7 linked regions of the Homo sapiens genome follow. The protein of the gene in region 5 purifies or fractionates together with the protein of the main gene of each other region. This does not show direct contact. Each region holds a gene or a part of one and is shown on either strand. Other genes may lie near its edges. The genes, in order: ZC3H11A, PUM2, CASC3, SREK1, PAIP2B, PABPC1L and PDCD11.

The links.
Region 1: the proteins of PAIP2B (region 5) and ZC3H11A purify together in Homo sapiens (affinity purification with mass spectrometry; one large-scale study listed by BioGRID and IntAct). This does not show direct contact.
Region 2: the proteins of PAIP2B (region 5) and PUM2 purify together in Homo sapiens (affinity purification with mass spectrometry; one large-scale study listed by BioGRID and IntAct). This does not show direct contact.
Region 3: the proteins of PAIP2B (region 5) and CASC3 purify together in Homo sapiens (co-immunoprecipitation; 2 studies listed by BioGRID and IntAct, with this or other methods). This does not show direct contact.
Region 4: the proteins of PAIP2B (region 5) and SREK1 purify together in Homo sapiens (affinity purification with mass spectrometry; one large-scale study listed by BioGRID and IntAct). This does not show direct contact.
Region 6: the proteins of PAIP2B (region 5) and PABPC1L purify together in Homo sapiens (affinity purification with mass spectrometry; one large-scale study listed by BioGRID and IntAct). This does not show direct contact.
Region 7: the proteins of PAIP2B (region 5) and PDCD11 purify together in Homo sapiens (affinity purification with mass spectrometry; one large-scale study listed by BioGRID and IntAct). This does not show direct contact.

The regions. Positions count from the first base shown.
Region 1 is NC_000001.11:203,826,623-203,830,122, reverse strand, and holds part of ZC3H11A (zinc finger CCCH domain-containing protein 11A), read right to left. Parts: intron 1,825-3,500; coding exon 1,701-1,824; intron 673-1,700; coding exon 469-672; intron 344-468; coding exon 227-343; intron 1-226. UniProt on the Homo sapiens protein: Through its association with TREX complex components, may participate in the export and post-transcriptional coordination of selected mRNA transcripts, including those required to maintain the metabolic processes in embryonic cells.
Region 2 is NC_000002.12:20,340,845-20,344,344, reverse strand, and holds part of PUM2 (pumilio homolog 2), read left to right. Parts: intron 1-3,500. UniProt on the Homo sapiens protein: Sequence-specific RNA-binding protein that acts as a post-transcriptional repressor by binding the 3'-UTR of mRNA targets.
Region 3 is NC_000017.11:40,143,537-40,147,036, reverse strand, and holds part of CASC3 (protein CASC3), read right to left. Parts: intron 1-3,500. UniProt on the Homo sapiens protein: Required for pre-mRNA splicing as component of the spliceosome. Core component of the splicing-dependent multiprotein exon junction complex (EJC) deposited at splice junctions on mRNAs.
Region 4 is NC_000005.10:66,150,800-66,154,299, reverse strand, and holds part of SREK1 (splicing regulatory glutamine/lysine-rich protein 1), read right to left. Parts: intron 838-3,500; coding exon 704-837; exon of another isoform or gene 1-703. UniProt on the Homo sapiens protein: Participates in the regulation of alternative splicing by modulating the activity of other splice facors. Inhibits the splicing activity of SFRS1, SFRS2 and SFRS6. Augments the splicing activity of SFRS3.
Region 5 is NC_000002.12:71,220,604-71,224,103, forward strand, and holds part of PAIP2B (polyadenylate-binding protein-interacting protein 2B), read right to left. Parts: intron 1-3,500. UniProt on the Homo sapiens protein: Inhibits translation of capped and polyadenylated mRNAs by displacing PABPC1 from the poly(A) tail.
Region 6 is NC_000020.11:44,913,060-44,916,559, reverse strand, and holds part of PABPC1L (polyadenylate-binding protein 1-like), read right to left. Parts: intron 1-3,500. UniProt on the Homo sapiens protein: Poly(A)-binding protein involved in oocyte maturation and early embryo development. It is required for cytosolic mRNA polyadenylation and translational activation of maternally stored mRNA in oocytes.
Region 7 is NC_000010.11:103,441,626-103,444,209, forward strand, and holds part of PDCD11 (protein RRP5 homolog), read left to right. Parts: intron 1-200; coding exon 201-350; intron 351-584; coding exon of another isoform or gene 585-587; coding exon 588-835; intron 836-1,539; coding exon 1,540-1,708; intron 1,709-2,289; coding exon 2,290-2,443; intron 2,444-2,584. UniProt on the Homo sapiens protein: Essential for the generation of mature 18S rRNA, specifically necessary for cleavages at sites A0, 1 and 2 of the 47S precursor. Directly interacts with U3 snoRNA. Involved in the biogenesis of rRNA.

The sequences.
Region 1 (3,500 bases), on a different chromosome or scaffold from region 5:
CTGAAAATTCAAATAGAAATTTTATGAGGAACGGGAGCCTTTTCATCTTTGTATTTTATCTGTACATAGCAGGCATTTATTTTTGAATAAATGATCAACAGAAACTAAGTATAGGTAAGTATGCGTGTAGCATGGGAAAAAGAAGAGGGAGGTCAATGATTGTGAACTAAATTTCAAAGGTAGTTTCAACAGTGCTATAAGAGGCACCAATCTAGCCTCTTCTTACCTTGCTTTATATTGACTGCAGGTTTCCGGACAGAAGTCACTCGTAATCCATTGTGAACTTCAGGAGTTGGTTGCAGGGTAGGTGTTTTGGTTTCATCACCTTCCTCAGAAAACTGATCTATATATCAACATTTAAGGCAAATTCACAATTAAAAATACGCCTATAGCTTTAATCCTGATTCTGCCCAATTCACTATGAGACCCTATTTATTTGCCTTAAAGAAGGAGCCAGACAGAACTTACCATCATCATCTTCATCATCATCTGCAGCATTAATTACAACTGGTGGATGCGTGGGGCTAGGAACATTTTCGGAACTTTCTACTTTCATAACGCTCCGCAGCTGAGGGGAAGGATTGGACTGGACAGACAATTTGTTCTGCTGAACTGAAAGTTGGCTAGCCTTCACTTCCTCTTCTGGTGACTCAGGCACAGTGGGCAACACAGCTAAACGCACAAAATCAGTCATAAATTAAAAACAGAAGATACAACCCCAACTTACCAAAAATTCCTGACCACCTATGAAAACTATAGTGTATTTGTCTTATGAGCATTTATACTAAATTTCCTCATTTAAGTTCTAAAGTCCCAGGGAGGGAAAAGATGTGCTTTTACCTAATTAACTCTCCACTAACTCTCCACTGTACATAAACACAAAGTGGGCACTCAAAACAGAATCAACAGAAGACTAGAAGAAGCATAGTACCTGTTCACAAATTCTAGACCTTTAATTTTAATACTGCAATTCTAGGCTTTTTGCTCAGCAAAGAAGTAGCTTCTAAGACCCAAGCATATGACACTTACTTGAACCAAACCAGAAAGGAATAAGTCTACTTTTTTCCCTTAAATTGAGGTAAAAAGATGTAGCCATCAAATTTTAATCACGTAGCAACTGTGGCTTTTAAATGGCCAATTCCACTTTTAAATTACTTTAAAATGAACTTTGGGAATAACCACTAGCTTTTTAGTTTTATTTTAGATTATAGTCTAGAGTAGGGTTGGCAAATATTTTCTGTAAAGAGCCAGTTAATAATTTAGGCTTTGTGGGCCATATGGTTTCTGTCTCAACTACTCAATTCTATAGCACTAGCACAAAACTGATAATAGAAAATATGTAAATGAATGGGCAAGGCTATATTCCAATAAAACTTATTTTACAAAACAGGCAGAGGACCAGTTTTGCCAACCTTTGACCTAGAAAATCAAATTTATTTTGAAAACGTTTATGGGTCTGATAAGAATATGAGAAATGAAGTAAGTATAATAACTTAAATGGCATGCCAAGATATATAATGGTTCTAAGGCCAAGGATAAATCATTTAACCTTAATAAGATTCAGTTCACTTATCTGTAAAGTGGAAATAATTCTGCTGTTTCACAAGACTGAAAGGAGTCAATGTCTGAAAAGTACTGTTGTACAGTGTGCATAATAGGTGTTCATTTGATATTCTTTTAAAATTAAAAACTGATCTCACTTTTGCTCGGAGGTAGGAAAAGGCCATCAACATATCGTCCTCTATTGTGATGGAAAGCGCAGTTTAATTTTTGACATCCTGTTGGCTGATTTTCCCAATAACAAGGAATTTCACTGCGTTTTTTCTGTAAGAGGGAAAAACACATTGCTTTCAAATAAAACAGTGATACGTATATTCATGTGGCAGTTTGTTTTCTAGACAAAGTTCATACAGGGTTCAAAAATCCGAGGCATGTGAGATGAGATGATTTTTAGAAGGAAGAGAGATTGCTGAAAATAACATAACTTAGGCATGATGGAGAGCTGAATGGAGCAGGAGAGTAGTTTATGTTATTCTTTCCCTTTTTACCCTCATCCTGGAACCCCTAAAATGTCTACACTTAATTTAGAGAAGCAGGATGATACAGTAGTTTAAGTTTATGAAATCAAAGATAACGGTCTGAATCTCTATTATGTTACTTATTGGCCAGGTGGCCTTGGATAATTCATGCCTCTAAGCCTCACTTTCCTTAGCTATAAAACGGGAATAAATGGTTTCTTATGAAGAGTACATAAAATAATGTATATAAAGCACTAAGCACATAGGTCAAACTCAATAAACTGCAGTTATTACTTGAAGCTGAGAGTTCAAGGGTTTGAGAAAATTCTTCCCATTCATGAATTCTCAAAGTAAGGCACCTATAACAACACACTAAGGATGTTAGGTATCCTTCCCAAGTCACCTTACTTTTTTTTTTTTTTTGAGACAGAGTCTTGCTCTGTCACCCAGGCTGGAGTGCAGTGGCGCGATCTCCGCTCACTGCAAGCTCCGCCTCCCGGGTTCACGCCATTCTCCTGCCTCAGCCTCCAGAGTAGCTGGGACTACAGGTGCCTGCCACCACACTCGGCTAATTTTTTTTGTATTTTTAGTAGATAAGAGGTTTTACCATGTTAGCCAGGATGGTCTTGATCTCCTGACCTCGTGATCCGCCCGCCTCAGCCTCCCAAAGTGCTGGGATTACAGGTGTGAGCCACCGCACCCGGCCAGTCACCTTACTTTTATAAAGGAAAATTGGGAGAAAAAAAAAAAAAAAGAATACCTGTGCATCTAGAATAGAATAAACTGCTGAATCATAGGATGTATGTCCTAGAAAAATATATACATTAGTTCTCCAACAGCTGTGTATAAGCAATGTTCACAGCAATATTATTTTCAATAGCTCTATAATTTTGCAAACCCATGTGTACATCAATACTAGAATGGATAAAGAAACTGTAAAGTATTCGTACAACAGAATATCATCTAGTAATGAGAAGGAATAAACCATTGCTATACTCAATGCCACAGATGTGAAATGAAAGAAGCCAGACACAAGAGTGCATACTATACCATTCCATTTATGAAAAGATGAAAACAGTCAAAACTTCTCCATGGTAGAGTAGTTGGGATGCTGATCAGCTTTGGGGATGTGGTTAGTAACAAGGGGATGAAGGGGAAGATAGATTACTGCTAATACTCTATTTCTTGAACTAGGTGCTGATCAAGTAAGTATAATCACTCTATGAAAATTCTTCAAGTTGTAAGATTACGATTTTGCACTTTTCTAGATACATTTTAATAGTTCAAAAAAGGGGGAAAAAAGATATGAGAAGTACTCCCAAAAACTAACTAACCTCCGATGAACTGCATTATGTCGAATCTCTAATCATCATAAACAGCCTATGGTTTAAAATTCCAGGAAAAAACACCAGCATTGAAATTTAAGAATATGGAGAAGAGAGACAGAGAAACAATAACCATTACAAAAAGATGCTTAAATGT
Region 2 (3,500 bases), about 51 Mb from region 5:
TGGGCGCCTAACGCTTTGGGAGGCCGTGGCAGGTGGACTGCTTGAGCTCAGGCATTTGAGACCAGCCTGGGCAACGTGGTGAAACCCCATCTCAATAAGAAATGCAAAAATTAGCTGGGCATGGTGGCTCGCGTCTGTAGTCCCAGCTACCTGGGAGGCTGAGGCGCGAGGATCTCTTGATCCCAAGAGGTAGAGATTGCAGTGAGCCAAGATCGAGCCACTGCACTGCAGCATGGGCAACAGAGTGAGGCCCTGTCTCAAAAAATAAAATAAAGTAAAATAAAATAAAGTAAAATGATACTATGAAACCTTGTATCTGTTAATGGTAATGTTGAAGATATTTTCTATTACAACTCTGTTGCCTCAATAATGCTCCATCTAAGAAATTGCTTTTTTTTTCTCTGATACTGGGATGAGGGCGGGTGTCTCATCGTGTTGCTGGGGCTGGAGTGCAGTGGTGCAGTCACTGCTCACTGCAGCCTCAACTGCCCAGTCTCAAGCAGTTCTCTGACTTCAGCCTCCTGAGGAGCTGGCATTACAGGCGCACAACATCATACCCAACTAGTTATTTTGTTATTATTTGTAGAGACAAGGTCTCACTATGTTGCCTTGGCTAGTCTCGAATTTGTTGCCCCATGTGGTCTCGAATTCCTGGACTAAAGCAATCCTCCTGTCTTGGCCTCCTAAAGTGCTGGGATTATAGGTCCAAGCCACCATGCCCAACAGAAATTTCTTTTAAAGCTTAGTGTTAGGAATAAGGTTGCATCCAAGGGTTTGGTATGATTTCTTTCTCTGGCTAATGAGAATTGTACATACCTACTGTTTGTACAATTACTAGCACAACTGGTTAGCTTTAAACTTACTAGTTTATTTGCTATTTTATTTAATAAATTACTTAGTTATTTTTATTTAGAAACTTTTTTTTAATTTGAGGCAGGGTCTCTGTCATCCAGGCTGGAGTGCAGTGGTGTCACCCAGGCTGGAGTGGAGTGGTGTGAACATGACTCACTGCAGCCTTCACCTCCCTCGCTCTAGTGATCCTTCCACCTCAGCCTCTTGAGTAGCTGGGACCACAGGCATGTACCAGTACACCCAGCTAATTTTTTTGTTTGTTTTATTGTATATTTCCTTTAAGATAGTCTGCCGTCTTCCAAACATTTGCTTAAGTGAATAAAGTAAGTTTATTTAAATTATACTCAATTTTTTTTTAAACACAGACTCTTTTAAAAATATATAATTTAGCTGGGCATAGTGTGGCACTACTGTAACCCTAGAGGTTGAGGCAGGAGGATTGCTTGAGCCCAGGTTTGGAGGCTGTGAAGGCACCACCGCACTCTAGCCTGGGTGACAGAGTAAGACCCTGTCTATAAATATATATATGATTTAATACTTAATCCTTGAAACTAACACAGATTTGGTTTCTCTCCATACATTTCTACCTAGATGTTTGGTGGTGTTTTTGATGTAATAACTTGCCTTTTTAAAACTTAAGTATCTTTAGGAAATTGGCTTGGTCATTTCATCTCACTTTAAAGTTAACCAATTCAAAGCTTGTTCTTGATTACTTGAGGAACTTTAAAAACCGCAATTCATGCTAATCACCTAAATGATTCCTTTTACTTCAAAGATTTATACAATTCATATATATTTCTTAGACTATTCATAAGTCATAATAAGCTAAATATATTTTAAAGCTTTTAACCGTAAGTTAGGGTTTTCCTAGACAAAAATTAAATCTCTATTCTACCCAGTCTTATGAGAAAATTGAATATATTTCATACCTCACATTCATTTTTCTTTAAGTTGTCTTGGAAATGACTAGAAACACTACATAAAATGTATTTGTGTTAACATTTACAGAAAAGTTATGGTAATACTGGGTTAAGGTTAAACAGTTTTAATTGTAGAATTTCTTGGAGCCAGTAACAGAAGGAAGGAAAGATTGAACATGTACTCAGAGCTTGCAAAGGAGCAAGTGGGTGCTACTGAGCAGCATACCTGAAATGTATTGGACAAGGGATCACTTATTTCTGAGAACACTGAGTTGGTGAATAAGGAGCACACTTAGGAAAATTCCAAATATACTGCATTAAAGTCTGCTTCTTAAAATTGTTATTTTTCTCCAGTTGTCTCAGACCATGCATTCAGATTTCTTCCTTTAGTTCTCTGTTACAATTTAGTTAACATTTCTTTTTCTTTCTTTTTTTTTTTTTTTTGAGACAGAGTCTCACTCTGTTGCCCAGGCTGGAGTGTAGTGGCGCAATCTCCGCTCCATGCAACCACCACCTCCTGGGTTTAAGCGATTCTCCTGCCTCAGCCTCCCTAGTAGCTGGGATCACAGGCGCCTGCCACCACACCTGGCTAATTTTTATATTTTAGTAGAGACGGCCTTTCACCATGTTGGCCACCCTGGTCTCGAACTCATGACCGCAAGTGATCCACCTGTCTCAGCCTCCCAAAGTGCTGGGATTACAGGCGTGAGCAACCATGCTAGGCCTCTAGTTAACATTTCTTAAGTTGTTTTTCCTTGGTGAGGTATTAATTCTAATTGATAGCATGTAACAATTGAAAATTACTAAGATAGCCATGTGAGACAAGTCTTCATTTGTTGGACTTTCAGCCTAGTACTAATAGGAACAAAAAGTAACACAATAACTTTTGTACTTTGATAGTTTCCAAACTGTAATGCAGTTAAGCTATATTTATATAGGACATTAAGAAATTTATTTTGCTAACCTCAGTAAGTCTTACAATATGAAGAAATACAAAGATAAAGCCAACAGTACCTTCTTTACCAAAGTTGAGTGAGATGTTTATTTTTTCGTACTTCCCACAAACATATGTAGTCATACATTGCCCCCCTCCTTTTTTGAACAAAAATTGGATCATATGATACACATTAGGCAACTTTGTATTTTTACTTAATATCATGGACATTTTACATGTAACTTTAATTACTTGTAATTTTTGTACTGGCTCATTGTTTTAACTTTTTTCTGTTGTTGAGTTTGGCTTATTTTTTTAATTTTGTACCACCATATAAGTGGTGCTGCAGTAAATATCTTTATATAGTTAATTCATTTGTGTTGGTGCTGTTTGTTTAAGGTAAATTTCCAAAAGAGAAACTTCTGGGTCAAAATATTTTCTTTTTTTGCGGGGCAGGGAGAGGGGGGCTGTGCAGAGCGCAGGTAAGAGCTGTGGCCCCTGCTATGTTGCCTACGCTGGTCTTGAACTCCTGGACTCAAGTAATCCTCCTGCCTTGGCCAACCAAAGTGTTGGGATTATAGGCATGAGCCACTGTGCCCAGTCCAAAGAATTTTATATTGATTTTTAAACAAATAAACAAAAAGTTCAGTTTGATGTGTCATTAATACTCTAGAAAGCACTTGCATTTCAATTTCATTTATTACCTCACTTAATCTTTGCAACAGCCCTATGAGGGAGGCATTGTTGTTTCCATTTGCAAATGGACAAATGAGATCGAGTTCATTTAGCTAGTT
Region 3 (3,500 bases), on a different chromosome or scaffold from region 5:
TCAATGAACACTCCATATTGCCTGTCAGTTTCTCCAACGTTTCCATTCTCTAGTGACTACAGACGGTCCCTGATGTATGATGGTTCAACTTATAATTTTGACTTTATGGTGGTATGAAAGCCATAAACATTCAGTAGAAACTGTACTTCTCAGCTGGGTGCAGTGGCTCACCACACATGTAATCCCAGCACTTTGGGAGGCCAAGGTGGGAGGATCCCTTGAGTCCAGTTCAAGATCAGCCTGGGCAACACAGAGTGACCTCATCTCTATTAAAAATATTTTTAAAAAAATAAAAAAGAGGCCAGGCACTGTGGCTCATGCCTGTAATCCCAGCACTTTGGGAGGCCGAGGCAGGCGGATCACCAGGTCAAGAGTTCAAGACCAGCCTGTCCAACATGATGAAACCCCGTCTCTACTAAAAATACAAAAAAAATCAGCCAGGCATGGTGGCGTGCGCCTGTAATCCCAGCTACTTGGGAGGCTGAGGCACGAGAATCGCTTGAACCCGGGAGGCAGAGGTTGCAGTGAGCTGAGATCACGCCACTGCAGACAGAGTGAGACAGAGTGAGACTCTGTCTTAAAAAAAGAAAAAAAAAAAAAAAAAGAAATCGTACTTCTCGAGATGCTGGATAGCAACAGAGAGTTGCTGCTCCAAGTTAGCCAAGAAGTTATCTTGAACTTCTGAACTTATGATGGGTTTACCAGGATGGGATGTAACTACACCATAAATCAAAAAGCATCTGTACTGCAGCAAATATTCCCCATCCCAAAACCACTTCTAACTCTGAATTCTGTCCACTTCTATTTTCACTATCACCACTCTATTCCATGCCACACTCACTACTTAACTAGATTCCTACAATAGCTTTCTTAACTAGCTTTTCTGTCTCTGATCTTGTTTCTCTTCACTGTGGACAAAATAACTGCTATAAAAGAATCCTCAAATTTTACAGTACATAGCATCAACCTGGGATATTCTTTAATACATAAATGTCTGAGTCTCCAATGCCCCTCCCAAGAGTCTGTTTCAGTAGAGAATGGCTAATTGGATTTTCTGATGCAAGTGTTCTCTGGATCTGAAAAACACATCTTTAAAATTTAAATCAGACAAAGCATAGTGGCTCATGCTTGTAATCCCAGCACTTTGAAAAACCAAGACCGGCAGATCACTTGAGGTCAGGAGTTCGAGACCAGCCTTGCCAACATGGTGAAACCCCATCTCTACTAAAAATTAAAAAAACAAACAAACAAAAAACAGTAAATAAAAATTTTTAAAAAATGAATAAATAAATCCAATCGCATCACTTTTTTTTTTTGACACAGGGTCTTGCTCTGTTGCCCAGGCTGGAGTACAGTGATACAATCTTGATTCACTGCAACCTTCACTTCCCAGGCTCAAGCAATCCTCCCACCTCACCAATTAGTGGCCCCTGCTCACCAATTTGTCTTTATTTCTAATACCTATCCTGTCCCAACAATGCTCCAGTCACACCTAATTACTCCCAAGTTCCCAAACGCTCTCTATCTTCTCTATCTGGGCTTTTTCTCTTTTTAAAAAAATTTTGGGCCAGGCGCAGTAGCTCACGCCTGTAATCCCAGCACTTTGGGAGGCCGAGGTGGGTGGATCACGACGTCAAGAGATGGAGACCATCCTGGCCAACATGGTGGAACCCCGTCTCTACTAAAAATACAAAAATTAGCTGAGCGTGGTGGTGCACACCTGTAGTCCCAGCTACTCGGGAGGCTGAGGCAGGAGAAATCACTTGAACCAGGCGGGGCGGAGGCTGCAGTGAGCCGAGATTGCACCACCGCACTCCAGCCTGGCAACGGAATGAGACTCCGTCTTAAAAAACAAAACAAAACAAAACAAAAAAAATGGGGGGCACGGTGGCTCATGCCTGTAATCCCAGCACCTTGGGAGGCCGAGGTGGGTGGGTCACCTGAGGTCAGGAGTTCGAGACCAGCTTGACCAACATGGTGAAACCCCATCTCTACTAAAAACACAAAAATTAGGCGGGCGTGGTGGCATGCGCCTATAATCCCAGCTACTCGGGAGGCTGAGGCAGGAGAATCGCTTGAACCCAGGAGGCAGAGGTTGCAGTGAGCTGAGATCGAGCCATTGCACTCCAGCCTGGGTAACAGAGCAATACTCCATCTCAATAAAAAAAAAAAAAACTTAATTTTTTTTTTTTTTTGGCTGGGTATGGTGGCTCATGCTTGTAATCTCAGCACTTCAGGAGGTCAAGGCAGGAGGACTGGTTGAACCCAGCAGTTTGAGGTTGCAGTGAGCTGTGACCCCACAACTGCACTCCAGCCTGGGTGACTGGGCAACAGAGTGAGACCCTGCCTCTTTTTTAAAAAAAAAAAAAAAAAAAAAAGAGGGCTGGGCACAGTGGCTCACACCCGTAATCCACCTGTAATCCCGGTACTTTGGGAAGCTGAGGCGGACGGATCACCTGAGTTCACGAGTTCATGACCAGCCTGGCCAACATGGTAAAACCCCGTCTCTACTACAAATACAAAAATTAGCTGGGTGTGGTGGTGTGCACCTGTAATCCCAGCTACTTGGGAAGCTGAGACAGGAGAATCGCTTGAACCCGGGAGGTGGAGGTTGCAGCGAGCTAAGATCATGCCACTGCACTCTTGCCTGGGTTACAGAGCAAGACTCCATCTCAAGCAAAAAAAAAAAAAGAAAAAGAAAGTTTTTAATTTTTGTTGAGTACACAGTAGGTATATATTTATGTAGTACATGAGTTTTGTTTTTGTTTTTGTTTTTTGAGACAGAGTTTCCCTCTTGTTGCCCAGGATGAAGTGCAATGGCACAATCTTGGCTCACTGCAACCTCCACCTCCTGGGTTCAAGTGATTCTCCTGCCTCAGCCTCCTGAGTCGCTGGGATTACAGGCACCTGCCACCACGCCTACTTAATTTTTCTTATTTTCAGTAGAGACTGAAAATGGGTTTCGCCATGTTGGCCAGGCTAGTCTCGAACTCCTGACCGCAGGTGATTCACCCGCCTCGGCCTCCCAAAGTGCTGGGATTACAGGTGTGAGCCACCAAGCCCGGCCCATGAGATATTTTTATATAGATATACAATGTGTAATAATCATGTAAGGGTAAATGGGGTATGGATCGCCTCAAGCATTTATCCTTTGTTACAAACAATTCAATTACGTTCTTTTATTAATATATATATATACTTTTTTTTTGAGATGGAGTCTTGCCCTGTCACCAGGCTGGAGTGCAGTGGCTTGATTTCGGCTCACTGCAACCTCTGCCTCCCGGATTCAAGCGATTCTCCTGCCTCAGCCTCCTGAGTAGCTGGGACTACAGGGGCGTGCAAGCACGCCCAGCTAATTTTTGTATTTTTAGTAGAGACGAGATTTCACCATGTTGGCCAGGATGGTCTCAATCTCTTGACCTTGTTATCCACCCACCTCAGCCTCCCGAAGTGCTGGGATTACAGGCATGAGCCACTGTGCCCAGCCAATAGTTATTTTT
Region 4 (3,500 bases), on a different chromosome or scaffold from region 5:
AAAATATTAGTAATAATTAGTTCTTAAAGCAGTTTAGGTCATAAAATTTAATGGATACTTTAAGGCCTTTGTTCCTATCTTCAACAACTACTTCCTTCATGGAGGCTTTGGAAAATTGCTTTCCTTTTTTTCCAACACTCCTCCTGCCCCTTTTTGGGGCCAGTAAAAGAAAACATTAAATTCCAGTTGCAAAGCAAACAATTACATTGAATATAAAATAATGATCTCATAGTAACAATTAAGGTAAATTACCTTAAGAGTGTACTTGAAAGTATAAATTACAAATATTTTCTTATAAATATCACTTAACCCCAATTTGCCAAAATGTGTACACTATTTTCATTTGTAATAGTATTAATATTGAACACACAAGGTAAATGCTTGTTTATGCATTTAAAATAATTTCCCATATCAATTATTTTTTAATTTCAGAAAGCTTTCTTTGCAATCTGCAAATTGACTACAGAAAGCCAAAGCAAACCAGAAGCCAATGAATGTTAAATTGTAAAACCTCAAATGTACATGTCATAAATTAACCATTTTAATATTACTATTAGGTAAAAAGGTTTACCTCCTCCAAATTTCATTCTTACTTTCACACACACACCAAGAGTACTGTCTACTTGCCAATCTCTAGGAAAGCTAAAGGCAATAACAGACAGGACAGAAATTCAAATAAGAGGAAAAAAAGCGAGATACCAACCTTCTGCACAAGGAACAACTATCAGAGCTCTGTCAATAAAAACCGTGTTAGTTAGATGCTGGGCCACGCCAACACTTGATGGATCACGAAACTTAACATAACATACTTTGGAGGAAAAAGCAAGAGGTGCGTTGCTGCAAGATAAAAAGAAAAACAATTGAACTAATAAACATTTGCTTGGTTTTATCATTTTCACTTAAAATTTCTTTCTTAACCTTTACATAATCTTACGAAATTAAGACTTTAAAACTTTTTGTTATTAAGGATCATTAACACATAAAACAGTGAAACTTAGTCATTTAATGGTGATTTGTCTACCACAACAGAAGGCAATCCAGGCAGGCCTACTGCCTTACTTGTAAAACTTGGAACTCAAATTAATCAATCCTTAATCCGAGTGAATGTAAAAAAAGCTAATTTAACCCAAAAATTAACTCAAAAAGTGTATCATATGTAAGCAAAAATCCCTTTATAAAAGCTCCAAACCTCAAGATTTCAAATTTTATCATCATTCCAACTCTTCCTAAATGTGTTTCCCAAGCATTTACATCACTAAAAAACTTCACAACAGTCTTAGAAAGAGTCAGGTAGTATGGAATTTAAATTGAGGTATTTTGCATACACCAGAGCTGGACAGTGATGATTTTCCAGACAAAAGATTTTACAAACAAAATCTTACATATTTTATAGGCAACAAAGACTCTAACTGGTCCTACTTGATTCAGTTTAATCCAGGCAGGCCGATACTAAAAATGAACCAGACAAAGCACAAATGAAAGGAACTTTTCCTAAAATGAATACATCCTGTTAGATTCGAAAATATACTATCCTCATGGATAATCATTTTGTCAGCCTATCCATAATTACTTTTCATTAAAATCTGTAATTGTCTTTAGCAGGAAAAAAAAGACCGAACTAAGTACATACGTAATCTGTAACATAGATTTTATATTAAAATCTATTTGAAACATTTAAGATTTTTCACACTAAAAAAAGAGAGATCACTTGAAAAATATATGACTTAATAGTCATTTACTTTTGTTTACAAAACAGGAAAGAAAACTGACTACAATTCCAGAACTAGTAAATCGCAAAGTTAACATCTAATGTCTAATCATCTAATTCCAAACTTCATGCAACTGTAATCATTCAACTAATCAAGAATCTTTAAACCATTCTGACATACTATTAAATTAGCAATTCCACAAACATTAGCCGTTTTTAAAATCCAAAAATCCAGATTTCTTTGTAATTCTTCACGTCCAGGAACAAAACCATCTTTAAACAACGTAGAATAACCACATTAATAACGGTTAAATTTATATATATTTATGCTATTAACCAAACAATGTGATAATAAAATGAATCTGCATTTAGAACTTAAAACTATTTACATTATTAACACAATTAGTAAGGCTAATTAAAGTTGAAAATAAAAGATGTACCGCCGGGCGCAGTGGCTCACGCCTGTAATCCCAGCACTCTGGGAGGCCAAGGCGGAAGGCGGGCGGATCACGAGGTCAGGAGATCGAGACTATCCTGGCTAACACGGTGAAACCCCGTCTCTACTAAAAATACAAAAAATTCTCCAGGCGTGGTGGCGGGCGCCTGTAGTCCCAGCTACTCAGGAGGCTGAGGCAGGAGAGTGGCGTGAACCCGGGAGGCGGAGCTTGCAGTGAGCCGAGATTGCGCCACTGCACTCCAGCCTAGGCAACAGAGCGAGACTCCTTCTCAAAAAAAAAAAAAAAAAAAAAAAAAAAAAGGATGTACCTCTTAGCATCCAACTCACTTCTGCCTAAGGGCATCCAATTCAGGATTCACATCAGCCCTCAACAAAAATCCCTCCTTACCCAACCCAACACCTAAGTCAAAGCAACTTGTGTACTGACACTGAGGTTAACTGTATGCACATCCAGACTTAACTCACCACCTTTACATGACCAAATCACCAATTCAGGCCTCTTGTGAGCTCTAGACTCCCAGGTACAAGTGCCTGCTGGAATATTACACCTTGATGGTCACTAAGTAAGTTGAAAATACATTCATCAACCTCCTTCCTTACCAGTCTTGCCCTCTGTCCCCTGCATTCCATATTTCAGTAAAAGATATCATACTACCCAAGTCCGAAACCTAGGAGTCACTAGTGTGACCATCCTAAGCACTGCCCACCAACTACTTCCAAAGCTCTTTCTAGGTACACAATAAAATTCCATTTTTCTGTTCCTTTAAGTTAGGTGTGGCCATGTAACCTGCTTTGGTCAGTTAAATATGAGCAGAACTGACATGTGTCACTATTCTGAAGAAGCTCTGAGAACCACTGTTTGACTCTTTTCCTCCACCACAACGACTGGCAACATTCAAAAGATGGCTGGGACTCATCAACTTCATCCCAGAGTGAATAACCACAATGAGTAAAGTTCCCACCCCCACGAATTTAGTCTAAAAAATATTTTGTCAGCCAGGCAGGGTGGCTCATGCCTGTAATCCTAGCACTATGGGAGGCAGAGGCAGGCAGATCACCTGATGTCAGGAGTTTGAGACCAGTCTAGCCAACATGATGAAACCCCATCTCTACTAAAAATACAAAAATTAGCTGGGTGTGGTGCCACACACCTGTAATCCCAGCTACTTGGGAGGCTGAGGCACAAGAATTGCTTGAACCCGGGAGGCAGAGTTTGCAGTGAGCCGAGATCACACCACTGCACTCCAGCCTGGGCAAGAGAGTGAGACTGTGTCTCAAAAAAGAAAAAAAAAATTGTCAAACTACAAAGATCTGAAGTTATTTCCAAAACTCTAC
Region 5 (3,500 bases):
TATATTTGTATAGTGCTCCAGAGTGCTCAAATATCACTTCGTTTTTAAAAAATATTTGTTTATTTTTTCAAATATAGAGACAGGGTCTTGCTCTGTTGACCAGGCTGGTCTTGAACTCCTGGATTCTCCCACCTCTGCCTCCCAAAGTGCTGGTATTACAGGCGTGAGCCATCATCACACCCGGCCAGCTTCATTTGAGAAATCTTTCCCCAGCACTCCATATATTACTAATTATTCCTTTCTTCTTGTTTAGATAGCATTTTTGTTATACCTCTATTACCTCACTTGTCACATGATAATCAGCTGCTCACCCATCTGTCTCCCTTGATTGCTCATGAGCTCCTTGAGAAGAAGTCTCATTTTCAGGACCTTGAACAGTGTGCAACACATGTATGCTTCACAGGCAGAGAAGAAGTAAATGATTTCACTACAGTGTAATCATTCCCAGAATTCAATTACCTGTATTTCTAAATTGTTCTAGACACTCTGCCAACAACCTGAGAATGTTATACTCTTTCCCTAAAACTTCCATCCATTACTGAGTATCTATGGTCATAGCTAACTCAATTGTGACATGCCCTCTGGCCAAGCCCATTCATAGTTTTTCCTCTAGATGATTTTTAATTTTTGTTTTTATTTGTTCTTTGTATTTTTAATACAAACAGCACATAAGTAAACTTCACCATCTCTATATCTCTGTGCCTTTGCACCTGCTAGTCTCGGTTTGGAATGATGTCTGAAGGTTTTATTCACCTGGAAAGCATTCCTACTCACCCTTAAAGATATCAGCTTAAATAATACCTTCTCTGGGAAGCCTTTCTATCCTCCCATTCTCTCAGGAAGAGTTCAGAATTTCTACAGTTGAAACTGTAGACCCTGCCCTCACAGAGCTCACGGTCTAGTATGAAAAACAGCCATATGAACAAATAACCACACTATAATACTAAATGCAATACCAAAAGGGAGATGTATTGAATATTTGACATGTGTCAATTACCTTGTTAGATTCTTTATTAATAATTATCTATGATTATATTAGGTAAGTATTTGAATTGGACAAAAGGCCATGAAACTCTAGAACTGTTATACTCTCAATCGTCTTCTAAAGAAACTCTCCAAAGGGTTCTTTTAAAATATGCTATAGTCATACTGAGAGGTGAGGACAGCTGGATTTCCTGGGTCGAGTGGGGACTTGGGGAACTTTCCTCTTACAAGAGGATTGTAAAATGCACCAGTCAGCGCTCTGCAAAATGCGCCAATCAGCGCTCTGTAAAATGCACCAATCAGCAGGACCCTAAAAGTAGCCAATCGCAGGGAGGATTGAAAAAAGGGCACTCTTGATAGCCCAGAAACGGAACATGGGAGGGGACAAATAAGGGAATAAAAGCTGGCCACCTGAGCCCACAGCAGCAACCTGCTGGGGTCCCCTTCCAGGCTGTGGAAGCTTTGTTCTTTCACTCTTCACAATATACCTTGCTACCGCTCACTCTTTGGGTCCGTACCATCTTTAAGAGCTGTAACACTCACCACGAAGGTCTGGGGCTCCATTCTTGAAGTCAGTGAGACCGTGAACCCACAGGCAGGAACCAACTCCAGACACAATACAACTATTGTGTGACTGTGGCATACACAAAAAAGCATATCTGTAGCATATCTGTGTGACTGGTAATGCATAAAACCAACCTTACTTCTGTGGCCACAAGTGACTGGACCAGGGCTCAGTGCTTCAGCTGAGGACGGCATATAGGCTGAACTTCAGGGAGATCAATCACCAAGGACATGATGGCACAGCTCAAAATTCTCTCTAGTAGGGGCCTTCTGTTTTTAGAAGGTGACAGACTAATCCAATCAGATATTCTCTCTTGGAAAATACAAATGTTGAGTGAACAAAGCAAAAGAGGGCAGGTCTTCAGAGCTCAAATACTAAATACTGCTAAATTAATGTTCTGTGAAGTTTTGAAAGTACTAGGGCCAAGAGACAATATGGCTGCTTAGATGACTTTCCATCCAAGTTTACATTCAGCCCTCATCACCAAAGCTGATATGTGTGTGCCTCTTTCTTGCAACCCACCAGGGACTAACACATCATATACCACTTTTGGAATTAGGAAACAGGCTCAGAAGTCCAAGAGCTTGACCAAAGGAACTCAGTTGGTAGGTAGCAGAACCAGAATTCAAAGACCCAGGTCAGCATGATTCTTCTATAATATCCTGCCACTTACATGGGCAAGTGGCCTCAAAATCAACAAAAGACAAGTAGAGGTTGACATGTGACAATGGAGAGAGGCTCAAAAGGAAGTTTGTACACAAAAATACAAAAGGAAATGTTCTGGAAGTATGTCTGGGGATGTGAAGTAGGAGCAGGCACACCAGGTTTACCTTGGTCAAGTGAATCTATAATTCCAACCTGGGCCTTTCCCCAGAGCTCCTGACTTAGCTCTTATCTGTCTTTCTTAGGCAAATATAAAATCCACAGGGCAGGACCTTAATCTCCAGCTTGTTCACCACAGATTAAAGCAGAGTTTGAGGCTGGATGCAGAGGCTCACGCCTGTAATCCCAGCACTCGGGGAGGCCAAGATGGGTGGATTCCCTGAGGTCAGAATATCGAGACCAGCCTGGCCAACATGGTGAAACCCTGTTTCTACTAAAAATACAAAAATTCGTTGGGTGTGGTGGTGTGAGCCTATAATCCCAGCTACTTGGAGTCTGAGGCAGGAGGATTGCTTGACCCAGGATGCAGAGGTTGCAGTGAGCTGAAATCGTGCCATTGCACTCCAGCCTGGGTGACAAGAGCGAAACTCCATCTCAAAAACAAACAAACAAACAAAAACACAGACTTTTTTTTTTTTTTTGAAATGGAGTCTCACTCTGTCACCCAGGCTGGAGTGCAGTGGCACGATTCGGCTCACTGCAACCTCCACCTCTTGGGTTCAATAAATTCTCTGCCTCAGCCTCCTGAATAGCTGGGACTACAGGCTCCTGCCACCATGCCTGGCTAATTTTTTTGTATTTTTAGTAGAGACAGGGTTCCACCATCCTGGACAGGTTGGTATTGAACTCCTGACCTCGTGATCCACCTGCCTCAGCCTCCCAAAGTGCTGGGATTACAGGCATGAACCACCACGCTCAGCCGAGTCTGACTTATGGTAAGTGCTTAATATATGATAAATGAACAAACTGAATGAATGAATATATGATAACTGAATAAATTTATGAATAAATGTACAAACTATCAAATAAGCTAAAGAAATAGTCCACATTGTTGGGGAAAGGGGTTACCATGAAACAGACCCTAGCAGTCACTTACAAATACAGTTCATCTTCATTATTTGTGGATCCCATATTTGCAAATTTGCTTACTTGCTAAAATGTCTTTGTAATCCCCAAATACTTGTGGAGCTTTCAAGGTGACTTATGGATATACACATAGTAGTGAAAAATATGTCACTCCTTGCCCAAGTCCCAAGGTGACCCTCAGCCTTGTCTCAGCCCTCATACA
Region 6 (3,500 bases), on a different chromosome or scaffold from region 5:
GCTCATGCCTGTAATCCCAGCACTTTGGGAGGCCGAGGTGGGCATATCACTTGAGGTCAGGAGTTCGAGACCAGCCTGGACAACATGGTGCAACCCTGTCTCTATTAAAAATACAAAAAATTAGCCAGATGTGGTGGTGGGTGCCTGTAATCCCAGCTACTCAGGAGGCTGAGGCAGGGGAATTGCTTGAACCGAGGAGGCGGAGGTTGCGGTGAGCTGATATTGCACCACTGAACTCCATCCTGGGTGACAGAGTGAGACTCTGTGTCAAAAAAATAAAAACAGAAAAGAAAAAACAGATTTAAGAGGGAGAACGAAATGAACACAGGTTTCATCTATACTGCATACTGGCTTTTAATTGTCTTCCTAAGGCAATGGGCAAAAGGGTTAGATTCAAACCCCCATATCTGCATCCTTGTTTCTATCAGCAAACTAGAAACAACCGGGGTATTCATCAAGGGGGAGCCTCAATTGTACACCAGTCTACTGTATGTGCACAGTTGAAGAGAATGTGGTAGGTTACATGGCCTGACAGTCTTGTTAAGTGAAAAAAAAAATCCATTCAGGCTAAAGTAGGCATCTACACATTGGAAATTTTGAAAAAGACACATAAAATGTATTCATATTACTTTTGGGGACTAGGGCTGAAAGAAATGGAGTCTTGTTTTTCACTTTCTTCCCTTCCACATTGTTTAAACTTTGCCAATACATGAATTACTGCAACAACAGACTCATTTCAATTTTTTTTTTTTTTTTTTTTGAGATAGAGTTTCACTCTTGTTGCCCAGGCTGGAGTGCAATGGCACAATCTTGGCTCCCTGCAACCCCCGCCTCCCAGGTTCAAGCGATTCTCCTGCCTCAGACTCCCGAGTAGCTGAGATTACAGGTGCATGCCACCATGCCTGGCTAGTTTTTTGTATTTTTAGTAGAGATGGAGTTTCACCATGTTGGCTAGGCTGGTCCTGGACTCCTGACCTCAGGTGATCCACCCACCTGGGCCTCCCAAAGTGCTGGGATTAGGAGCATGAGCCACTGCACCCCGCCTCAATTTTTTTAAAGATGCACAATATCCTATTCCCATTCTGTAACCCTCCTGACTCAGGCCAGCAGGACAGAACTTGAGAACAAGGAAAGACCTTCTAGTTCACATAGCCCCCATCCCTCTTGTTGAACTCGCAGAAAGACCACTAACCCCCCACTTCAAGGTGACTGTGGCTCCACTCATCCCTGTGGCTACAGGCTCAGCTCAGCTAGTGGCATTTTCTGCCTGGATGACAAGCACTGCCTCCCAGCCTAGCTTGCACACTACCACTGTGATGCTCTTTCTAAAATGTAATTCTGACCACATCCCTTCAATCTCTAGTAGCTTCTATCCACAGAACTATATCAACTTGGCATTTGAGGCTCCCCAGTGGGTGTTGCACAACAGATCTTGCTTCCAAACCCATGCCTTGCACATACCCCTCCACCTCTCATCCTGAAACAGGGGCCTTCCACTTTCAACTCAAGCCTCAGCTTGGATTTAACCACGTTGACTGGGTCCCCACTGTGGGTCAAGAACCTGCTAAGGGCATTACATACTTCCCTTGTTATCTATGCCAGTCATAAGAGAATCCTTTCAGTCATTTCTTAACCTCTGAGCCCCAGAGGGAAAATGAGAATAAATGACTTGTCCAAGGTCAGCCAACAGAAGTAATTCTTTGATTGTTACAGTTATCACTTAGAAGCTTAACAGTATGCCAGGTACCCTTTTAAGGAGTATACATGTATGCAGAAAACCTAACACACAGAAAGTACATGATAAATCTGCCATTATTATTGTGAAGAACTTAATACACAGTTAAGAGTCTTTCTTCCTTTGATCCTCAAAGACAGGAAACAGCCCCGTCTCTCTGTCACAGATAACCCTTAGTGCATTACTACATCTCCTCAAGTCTACCTGCTCCTCTGAGCCACAGGGATAGCCTCTTATTGACTGGGAATTTGAGAGCCCTCGTTGAGAACTTAAGGATTATGCTTGGCACACAGTAGCACTTGATAAAAGTTCTGACATGCCAGGTGCAGTGGCTCACGCCTGTAATCCCAGCACTTTGGGAGACTGAGGCGGGCGGATCACAAGGTCAGGAGATCGAGACCATCCTGGCTAACACGGTGAAACCCCGTCTCTACTAAAAATACAAAAAAAATTAGCTGGGCGTGGTGGCGGGCACCTGTAGTCCCAGCTACTCAGGAGGCTGAGGCAGGAGAATGGCGTGAACCTGGGAGGAGGAGGTTGCAGTGAGCTGAGATCGCGCCACTGCACTCCAGCCTGGGCAACAGAGTGAGACTCCGTCTCAAAAAAAAAAAAAAAAAAAAGTTCTGACACATAGGCTACAAAAACTGTCCCCATCCTCCCTAGAATAGCAGACACTCCAAAGGCTACGGGGTAACTGATCAACTATCCTTATAAAATCTAGAGACAGAACACCCAGGTTTAAGCCCTCTGTTCCAGACATACTGACCTGCTATATGGCCGCTGATCCTCAACATCCTCATATAAAAAGTCAGAGAAATAATCAGAATCCTTCTCAAATGACATACCTCCACTGGCTCAACATATATTTATTGAGCACCTAATATGTTTCACATCTTATTCTAAGTATTGGGATACAATAATGACTAAGAACAAGATCACTGATGGAACTTACATCTAATGTAAGACAATCTTAAAAACAAGATTCAATAACTTAATTGCCTTGATGGCCCCAATTAATGGCCTTCCTGTAGCCACACCCTTCATCCTATAATTTCTACTCCCCTCTCACTCTGAATGTGGGCTGGTCTTGTGACTTGCTTTGGTCAATAGAATGTAGTGAAAGAGGCCAGGTGCGGTGGCTCATGGCTGTAATCCCAGCATTTTGGGAGGTCAGGAGTTCGAGACCAGCCTGGCCAACACAGTGAAACCCACCCTGTCTCCACTAAACATACAAAAATTATCCAGGCATGGTGGCTCGCACCTGTAATTCCAGCTACTCGGGAGGCTGAGGCAGGAGAATCGTTTGAACTCAGGAGGCTTGAACCCAGGAAGTTGCAGTAAGCTGAGATCATGCCACTGTACTCCAGCCTAGGCAACAGAGTAAGACTGCATCTCAATTAAAAAAAAAAAACGTAGTGGAAGTGATGGTTCCAGTTCTGCATTTAGTTCTCAAGAGGCCTGGTGTGCTTCCACTCTTGTCTTCTGAGCCCCTGCCATTGCCATGAGAATACCATGAGAATAGCCTGGACTAGCCTACTGGAGGACAAAAGGCCATAGGGAGGAAAGCCAAGATGTTCCAGCTGACAGCCAGTCGCTCCCTCATATACCCAGCGAGAGCTCCCACTCAGCTTTCAGTGGGCATAGGAGGGAACCCAGCCAAGACCAGAAGAACTGCCCAGCTGAACTTTGCCCATTGCCAACTGTGGAATTATTAGCTAAATAAATGATTGTTGTTGACGGCCACTAAATTTGAAGGTGGTTACAC
Region 7 (2,584 bases), on a different chromosome or scaffold from region 5:
TATTTACAAAGAAAACTTTTATGTCACTGCTATAAAGTTTCCCCAGTGGGCTGGGGCCTGGCATGGCCTAGGAGGAGAGGAGAGGAGAGGAGGGGTCTCTGGGCTTGGTAGGAGTCCATGCTCCTCCAGGTGGGCTGGCACGGGGGAACAGGGAGCAGCCTGAGCCAGGTGCTTTCTTTAGCGCCTCTGTGTTCCTCCAGGAGAAGCAAACCAAGCCAGCAGAAGCGCCCCGGCTGCAGCTGTCTTCAGGCTTCGCTTGGAATGTGGGACTAGACTCTCTGACCCCGGCCTTGCCACCTCTAGCAGAGAGCTCAGACAGCGAGGAGGATGAGAAGCCACACCAAGCCACGGTGCTGTATTTTGCAGGGCATGTCCTTTTTGCAGGGACCCCTTGGTGTCAGTCTCTTGTGCTCTGTTCCTAGACTGGGTGTCTTCCTGGGTGAGTGGGGGAGGGGGCAGCGGCCAGTCCCAGGCCAGGGGGTATATATAGAGCCCTGGGCTGCCCAGCCAACTCGTGACTTCCACCACAGACCTCCCCTAGGCCTTGAGGAGCAGATGACTCACGGTGTTTCTGCTTTCCATAGCAGATAAAGAAAAGCAAGAAAGAAAGGGAGTTGGAGAAGCAGAAGGCAGAGAAGGAACTGTCCCGCATTGAGGAGGCGCTGATGGATCCTGGGCGGCAGCCAGAGTCCGCGGATGATTTTGACCGACTGGTGCTGAGCTCCCCCAACAGCTCCATTCTGTGGCTGCAGTACATGGCTTTCCACCTGCAGGCCACGGAGATCGAGAAGGCCCGTGCCGTGGCTGAGAGGGCCCTTAAGACCATCTCCTTCAGGTCTCAGCTTTGCCCCAGGGAGCACAGTGTCTTCGCACGTTCTGGGCTGGGAAGTTTCTCAACCTGTGGGGTAGCTCCTCCTAGGCAGGCCGGCAGCATTTTGGGTGGCTGCCACCAGGGGCCCATGGGTCCTCAGGCTTTCTGCCATAGCTGCGGCCATCTGTGAAATAGATCTACTCATTTATATTTTATAGTCTTCTTCCCTGAAACTGCTAAGGGTAACCTTCACAAGAGTCCATACACTTATATGAGGGAACCAGTTTGAGCAGAAACACAGTAAGAAAAGAACTCACTACATACCTGGGCGAAATCCCTGTGGTGGTTTTCCAAACAGAGGGAGTTTTTGAGGCCTAATGAAGAGGGAAGGCAGTCCTTTGCTTCATCCTCTTAGCTTGAAGAGAGAATCAGACCCAGGACTCTGCGTCCAGCCCAAACCTCAGGCCCGTTTGGGATCTGGTGGGCATCCTTTCTAGGAATGGAGGCAGAATCCAGGAGAGCCTCAGACTCAGCCATTGGGGTTGGGGCAGGGGTTTCTAATGCTGCAGGAGCTGTGGGGACACAGCCTCTTAGGGTCTACATTTGGGGTGGGATCTGAGGACACAGATAGAGGCTGGGAGGGGGAGGTGGTTCCTGAGTCTGTCTGGATGGGGCGGGAGGCTCACTGGTTTCATGTGGCGCTCATGTGCTGACTGCTCTCCCTCCAGAGAGGAGCAGGAGAAGCTGAACGTGTGGGTGGCTCTGCTGAACCTGGAGAACATGTACGGCTCTCAGGAGTCCCTGACCAAGGTCTTTGAGCGAGCCGTGCAGTACAACGAGCCTCTCAAAGTCTTTCTCCACCTGGCTGACATCTACGCCAAGTCAGAGAAATTCCAGGTAGGAGGTTGGGCCACAGACGAACTCCTGGGAGTTCCAGGGCCACAATCTCAGAGAAGAGCCCCTGGGGTGCTGGGTCCAGTCCTGCTGTGAGCTTGCCACCCAACATCGGGGCCCCAACTTCCCTATCTTCCAAGTAAAAGAAGTCATTTCCCTCACCTCTTCTTCAGGCCTGTGGGGTCAAGGTGAGGGAAGGAGTGGCTTTGGAAGTGAAGGGGCAGTGGACCCCTGGTGTGTCTGCCTTGGGCTGCTGGCAGGGCATCACAGACAGAAGGGGACGTCCCGGCCCAGCATCCGCTCTGGCGTCTCTCCTACTCCCCCTTGTCATTCTCATGTTCTAGGCTAGGACCGCCCTCCCATGGGTGCGGATCAGCAGGGAATCCCCTCCGTCGTGTTGTGCCTGTTCACGGTGCCCTTCTGTGAGCCTCCCTCCCGCTCCTCTCAGGTCTCTAGCATTAGGCCCTGAGAGTGATTTGGTGTCTGGGAGCCCAGGTCTAGCTTCTTGTGAGTGTTGCTGCTTGTCTGTCTTGTCCCCTCTGTAGTATCACACTCTCCTCAGCGTGCCTCGTCTTTTCCCACAGGAAGCTGGTGAACTCTACAACCGGATGCTGAAGCGTTTCCGGCAGGAGAAAGCTGTGTGGATCAAATACGGCGCCTTCCTTCTGCGGAGGAGCCAGGCTGCAGCCAGTCACCGCGTGCTGCAGCGAGCCCTGGAGTGCCTGCCTAGCAAGGAGCGTGAGTGCTCATTCCCAGCTCCTGAGCCCATGAGCACTCCAGGATCGGGGAGTAGGAACTGGCTGTGGCATTGCTTCTTCTAAGTCAGGAGAGCCTTGTGAGGGCTTTCCTCTTGCTGCCTGTTGATTCTCTGCCCCTCAG